Linked DNA regions of Homo sapiens. The protein of the gene in region 1 purifies or fractionates together with the protein of each later gene. This does not show direct contact. Each region holds a gene or a part of one and is shown in the gene's direction. Other genes may lie near its edges.

Region 1 (3,655 bases):
GCATGAGCCACTGTTCTCAGTCAGATCTACTTTCTTGATAAGTTGTTTTGAATATTTTATTATGCTTGTCTTTATATACCTTAAGCATGAAGATAGGAGTTAAAGTAAATTAATAATTTTATAATTATTTTAACCATTATAAAATAATTTAATGATAATTAGCATATTTTGATTATTTTTCTTGTCTCATATACTTCTGTTTTATTAAAATTGCTGCTACATACATATTTTGCTACATAAAGATTCATAGCTCTTCACTGAAAATCAAAATCTTTAACATATAAAGTACCCATTGTGTGTCATTTAATAATCTTGGTTCTGATGTCCAACTTATGGGATATTAAAATTATTATCTTTGGTTTTCTTTTGAATTTGCTTGGTATAATTTTATGCTGTCTTTTATTTTTAATCTGTCTGAAACACTTTTAGGTTTGTCTCCTGTATATAACAGAGCTGAATTTTCTCCAATTAAAAGCTGTTTTTCTTTCATTAGGAGTTTACATTTATTGATGTGAGTGATACTTATAGACTTGGTTTTATCATATTATTTCATATTTTGTTATATATGTATGTGTATATTTATTTTCTATTAAAAATATATGGTGGTATTTAGGAAGGTTCAAAATTTGTTTCTAGTGGTGACCTATATACATTTAAATTTATATAATATCATTATTCCTCTTTATCTTTAGACAGTTTAAATTGGTTCCTTGTTATAAACAACAATAAACTTATCTTGTATTCTTACCCCTCCTTCACCCCTTCTATCTTCCCTACCAGTAAATTTGTATCATTTGTATTATCTTAGTGTTTATTTTGTATTTAACATTAATGTGAAATATTCATATGTGTCTATGGTTGCTTTCATTCTCAACTTTGCAAATGATCAGGCAATAAGGGAATTTATTTTACCCTCTCTTCCCTGTCTCTATTTTTTCTTAGTTATACTATTTCAGTGCTGTCTGAGCATATAACATTTATATTTCCTTCAGTCACACTTAAAATCACATTTGTTTTTTCTTAGATCTGCATGTACAATGTTTGCTACCATTTTTGTTTATTTTGGCTAAAGTTGCCATTGTCATCTCTTGGTTGGCTGTAGTTTGTCCTATGGTGGTTTCCAAAAAAAAGTCCCAAGTGAAAATTATTCTTTGAGTTCTTGCAGGTTCAGATAATATATCTGAGGCATTGATACCTAGAAGATAATGGGGCTTGATATAGTCCTTGGCTCATCCTTTCTTTTCTTGGATGTCTTATAGGTACTGCTGCACTATCTTTTGCTAGTGAATACTACTGATCTGAAATTTCTTCTCATATGGCTTGATCTTTGTTTGACTATCTAAATTATTATTCTTTATCTTTGAAACCTAATACTTTTACTCTTAGTTGTTTTGGTAGAAATCACTTGGTTTAATTTTTTGCTACTATGTGATGTGCAATTTTAATATGTAGATTGACGTATTGTTTTATTTTAGTAACATTTACTTGAAATATATATATTTTTTGAGTCAAGGTCTCACTCCCTTTGCCCAGGCTGGAGTGCAGTGGCACGATCATAGCTCACTGCAGCCTCAACTTCCTGGGCTCAAGCAATCCTCCCACCTCAGCCTCTCAAGTAGCTGGGACTACAGGAGAGCAGCACCATGCCCAGCTGATTTTTGTATTTTTAATAGAGATGGGGTTTTGTCATATTGGCCAGGCTGGTCTTGAACTCCTGGTCTCAAAGAATTCACCTGCCTCAGCGTCCCAAAGTACTGGTATTACAGGAGTAAGCCACCACACCTGGCCTGAAACAAATTTTTAAAAAGCTATTTTGTTCTACTTGGATTCCTTCTTTAGGTTATCCAATTAAGCCTATGTTGATTCTCTTTTGCTTGTTACCTATATCTATTAGTTTTCTCTTATCTTTTCCGTTTGTTTCATTTTTGTTGATTTTCTCATTTTTATCCTCTGTTTTCCTTATTGTGTATGGCTTCCATAAGGGAAAGTGAAAAGAATCAGAACTAAGATGCTGTTGAAACACTAAGGTGTTCCCATTGAAACAACCAGAAACAATATTTTGCACTTAGTCTCTGGGCTAGGTTGGAAAAACTACATTTTAAAGAAATTTTAAAGTAAAGAAATACTTAATTGTAGTTGTAGTTGAGATATATTTTCTTGAAGTTATTATTCAATAAATTCCACAGGCTCTTAGATTGCTGAAGGTGACATTTGCTTTAGTGTTCTATCACATTGTAAGTTTATTCCTTGATGATGCTACAATTTGATATCATTGATGATTATCAATATCCTTGATGATGCTACAATTTGTAATCATTCATATCTTTTGTTTTTTTCTGTTAGCATAAGATAGAGGGCAGGAAGACGAACTGAGGAAAGAGTAGGACATATCAAGAGCCGTAAAAATGGAAGTGGTGAACTGAAAGCTAATGATGTATGGGAATAAGACACCCACCTGGAAGTCAGAGGAAGCTTCAAGCCAAAGATGGGGAGATTGTGGACTCAGTAATCTAGCTGGTACTCTCACCCAGAGACAACCACAGAACACGCTGAAGCCAGCCTTTTATTGTTGTGCTTGAGCTCTGGATGAACTGCATTCCTGATCCCTAGTAGATGCTCAGTAACAGATTAAGGAATGAGGGTCCAAAGGAAAAAACACACGCATCTCATTGCAGTAATGAAATTTTACTGAATGGAGTGCTTAATGGGAAATGATATCCAAGAACATATGATTTCCTTATTTTAATATTGAGTAACAATTCTATTTGCTCAGACCTCTTTAATTTAATTTAGGGTAGGAGGAATTCCATTAAAATCTTTGATCTATCTTATTCAGATTTTTCTTAATTGGCTCAACCACTAGTCGTTGTGAAGTCCAAGATAGAGGAGTTGGCTGGAGTCATCCTCTCCCACAATGTGAAAGTAAGTAAAGACTCTTCTGACTTGACTATCAATTTAAACTCTGTTAGGTAATAAAGTCCCTGTGCATCTTTACAGGTATGTGTACCTTCCATTAGAATTTGCATGAATTTTAGATTTATCATGATGCCTTCGCTGAGTATTTCTTTCTCTTCACTCACTTACCTCAGTTGTCAAGTGTAAGCCTCCTCCAGACATCAGGAATGGAAGGCACAGCGGTGAAGAAAATTTCTACGCATACGGCTTTTCTGTCACCTACAGCTGTGACCCCCGCTTCTCACTCTTGGGCCATGCCTCCATTTCTTGCACTGTGGAGAATGAAACAATAGGTGTTTGGAGACCAAGCCCTCCTACCTGTGAAAGTAAGTCATAATGATGAATTCTGCATCAAAATGTTTGCTCTCTTTTGTTTAAAAGAGAAAGAAAGGTAAATTTATTGGGGGGCAAATGGAAAATTCAAAGATAAACTAACTATCGCTCTGATGCAATCATTTATTTGGCCACCTGATACTTATTGCATGTTTGTTTAGAATATAAAAGCCATAAAAATGGGAGTGGTGAACTGGGAGCTAACAGTATATGGGAACAAACAGCAACAACATCTCACTGGTTTGGTGAAGTAAAAGTTTATTCTCATTTACACTGAGTTTGTTCCATGTCCAGGAGACTCTCCAGGGCAGCCGTAGTCTGTGTTAGCTTAGCAACTAGCTCAGCAAGCCAGGTTGCTTTGATCTTA
Region 2 (3,655 bases), on another chromosome or scaffold:
GGAAGAGACACACAGCAATCTTGGGGGTGGGGGGCAGTGGTGAAGGGGCAGGAAGGCTCTGAGCCTAGGCCTCCAGGTGGGGGCAGTGGGGAGGTAGGGTTTGCTGAGGAACTGAGTACCAGATTTGGGGAGCATAAATAAAGATGAGAGGTCAGGAGCTAAAGCTGGAGATGGGGCTGGACTGAGACTTAGGCTGGCTGCGACAGAGGAGATCTCATCCTCTCTCCACGGGTGCTAAGCCTCTTCCACTGTCTTATCAGATGCCATTCTGTTTGCTCACCTCCCATGAGGAGAACTCCCATGTTCCCCCAGATAAATCTTCTGAAGAATCCTGATTGACCTCCCTGAATTGCTCTCACTGAACTGAAATGCACTTTGAGTCAACTCAGAGCAAGTCCAGGCCTTCTGCCCACGAAGTGTCTTCAAAGATGTGGATTCAGTGAGCAGTATGCCTCCCTGGGCCTGCTCCTGTTCCAGCCCAGAATGTTTTGCAGGCTCCTCATAGGACAGACGATGAGCTGTTCCCTGCTCTGGGGCAGAGGGTGCATGACTCTATACTGATTGTGCCTTTATTTCAGGTCCAACTTGATGGGCACCAAGTTCACTGTTTATGACAATGGAGTCAACCCTCAGAAGGCCTCATCCTCCACTTTGGAAAGTGGAACCTTACGTCAGGAGCTGGCAGCTGTGTGCTACGTGAGTCCTAGGTTCGGGGGTCTCTGATTTCCAAGGTAGATATGAAATCCAGGACTTGATGCCTGATCTAGGGGCTATCCCATCCATCTTAGTGGGTAGACAAGGCTGTGTGGAGAGGGGCTGTCCTCTGTGGAGTGTTCCTGGCCTAGGACAGGGGCTCTGGCTCTCTCCTCCTGACTTCAGAGCTCACACCACAGCCGGCCATCTGCTTGGGGAGCTCAGAAAACCAGGCCTGGCTCTCTGCAGTCCAGGCCAGGAGTCTCTTAGACAGAAGGAGACGGTCGCCCTGGGTTCTTGTCTGTGCATTTCCCAGATCATCCCTCTGGCATGCCAGGTTCTACATGGATTACACGGCACTTTGTCATCTCACTGAACGTTCAACCTAAGAGGTAGATCCTATTTTCTTTATAGATGAGGAAACTGAAGCTCAGCTGCAGATGTCACACAGCTCAAAAACGACCAAACTGGAATATAAATATAGGGGATTACTCTACCCCTTTGAACCTTTTTCTTCATTTTTAAAATCAGGGGTGGGTATCTCATCAACCTGGGCATGGGCACTTCTTGGAGGCCATCAGTAAGTAATCCACAGCTACTTTGTATGATCCTGTGGTGCCACCTGCTGACCAGTTTTGGGGAGGCAGCCTGAGTCTTCAAGTTCTTACTGAGCTCCAACTAAGCATATTGTTTGAGGCACTAAGGATATAGTAATGAACAGACATAAATGTATACCTTTATGGGACTTAAAGCCCTAGCAGGGCAGACAAGCTATGAAACAGATCTATCAGTGAAGTAAGTATGTTCTTTATAAACACTAAGAAGAAAAAGTAGGGGAGGGGAGATAAGAAATGTCAAGGTATGTGTGAGAATTTCAGAATGGCAGGGAGGGCGTCACTGAGGTAGCTCTTGAGTAAAGACCAGAAGGAAGTGAAAAACAGCAGTGTACGTGTCTAGGGGACACAGTGAGGACAAAAGTCCTGAATGCCTGGCATGAAGAAGGAATGGAGTGGATACCAGGCAGTAAATGGTGAGGAGAGGAAGGTCATGGGGCCACGTGCAGGTGAAGTCACATCTCCAGCTTTAACTTGGAGTGAGCTGGAGAGCCACTGGAGAGTTCTGAGCAGAGGAGAAAGATCATCTGACTTAATGTGCCTGAGCACTGGCTGCTGTGTTGAGAACAGATGGTGGGAAGGAGGAATAGGAGGGCCAACAACAGAAACCAGGAGTCCAGGCAAAGGCTGTTAGAATGATCTTGGTGAGAGAAGCTAGTGGTGAAAAGTGGTGGAAGTCTGGGTATAATTGGAAGGTGGAGCTGACAGAAACTGCTGATGGATTAGACGTAGGATGTAGAAGAGAGGACTCGAGTGTGACCAAGTAGTTTGCCGGAGCGAGTGGAAGAACAGCATTGCCGTGAGCAGAAGCAAGGATGACGCATAAGAGGAGCTAGTTCTGGCAGGGTAGAGACCCAGGGGCTCAGTTCTGGCCGTGTTAGGTTTAGAGGGATGTGTGTTAGACTTCGGAGTGGAGATGGTGGGAACTAGCTCTTCCTCTTTATTCCCGTCCCCCCCACCTTCTCCAGTAGGTAAATAGACGCCTCAGGTGGCCAGTGTTGCGTTCTCTTTCCCAGGAGACAAACGTCTTAGGCTTCAAGGGGCCTCGGAAGATGAGCGTGATTGTCCCAGGCATGAACATGGTTCATGAGAGAGTCTCTATCCGCCCCCGCAACGTGAGTGTCTACCCCTTCCTCCCCTCTTTCCCCATCATCCTAGTCTCTGCATGAGCTTCTAAGGGCAGAACTCCAGCTGATGTGTGTATGTGGAGGGGTACCATGTGAGAAAGCCCTGGAGGTCTAGGGAAATCCAAGGACCCCCATTCCCGGGATAGATCCCTTTCTGGGGTGGTCATGGTGCCAAAGGCCTGGGCCTGGCTCAGGTGAGGCTGCCCTCCCAGGAGCATGAGACACTGCTAGCACGCTGGCAGAATAAGAACACGGAGAGTATCATCGAGCTGCAAAACAAGACACCTGTCTGGAATGATGACACACAGTCCTATGTACTCAACTTCCATGGGCGCGTCACACAGGCCTCCGTGAAGAACTTCCAGATCATCCATGGCAATGACCGTGAGTGTTTCTGTCCCTACTCATTATGGTCCGTAGGATACCCAAGGCCCTTAGCGTAGGGTTCAGCCCACCTAGCCCTGCCTACACTGGCTAGAGTTTAAGAATGTGAGCTATACAGCTAAGGTTAGATGTATGGAACTTTCTAACCCTAATGACTGGGAGGTCCTGGAAGAACCTTCTTTGCAGCCCTGGTCCTAGATTCTGTGTATTCAACGGAGTCTCAGGCACGGGAACACCCTTTAAAAGGACTTTTCCTCTTTTCTGTCCCCTGGTGTTCACATGCATCTTACTTTGTCCTTTGCCATCTGCCACCTCTTTCCTGCCACTTCTCCCAATTGGCCTTTGTTTTACTTCCCTTTGTGATTCCCCTGGCATCTCTGCTTCTCACTTGTTCTTCCCTCATGTGGTTTGGGTGTCTGTCTATCCTTCCCTGGCTCTACCATTCCTGTCCTGTCCTTTTCTCTGTCTGTGCCTGTGCTTGGCCCCAGCGGACTACATCGTGATGCAGTTTGGCCGGGTAGCAGAGGATGTGTTCACCATGGATTACAACTACCCGCTGTGTGCACTGCAGGCCTTTGCCATTGCCCTGTCCAGCTTCGACAGCAAGCTGGCGTGCGAGTAGAGGCCTCTTCGTGCCCTTTGGGGTTGCCCAGCCTGGAGCGGAGCTTGCCTGCCTGCCTGTGGAGACAGCCCTGCCTATCCTCTGTATATAGGCCTTCCGCCAGATGAAGCTTTGGCCCTCAGTGGGCTCCCTGGCCCAGCCAGCCAGGAACTGGCTCCTTTGCCTCTGCTACTGAGGCAGGGGAGTAGTGGAGAGCGGGTGGGTGGGTGTGAAGG

What was found.
Region 2: the proteins of C4BPA (region 1) and TUB purify together in Homo sapiens (affinity purification with mass spectrometry; one large-scale study listed by BioGRID and IntAct). This does not show direct contact.

What each region holds. Positions count from the first base shown.
Region 1 is NC_000001.11:207,121,086-207,124,740, forward strand, and holds part of C4BPA (C4b-binding protein alpha chain precursor), read left to right. Parts: intron 1-2,836; coding exon 2,837-2,922; intron 2,923-3,089; coding exon 3,090-3,281; intron 3,282-3,655. UniProt on the Homo sapiens protein: Controls the classical pathway of complement activation. It binds as a cofactor to C3b/C4b inactivator (C3bINA), which then hydrolyzes the complement fragment C4b.
Region 2 is NC_000011.10:8,098,180-8,101,834, forward strand, and holds part of TUB (tubby protein homolog), read left to right. Parts: exon of another isoform or gene 1-578; coding exon 579-696; exon of another isoform or gene 697-1,160; intron 1,161-2,323; coding exon 2,324-2,422; intron 2,423-2,646; coding exon 2,647-2,818; intron 2,819-3,306; coding exon 3,307-3,440; 3' UTR 3,441-3,655. UniProt on the Homo sapiens protein: Functions in signal transduction from heterotrimeric G protein-coupled receptors. Binds to membranes containing phosphatidylinositol 4,5-bisphosphate. Can bind DNA (in vitro). May contribute to the regulation of transcription in the nucleus.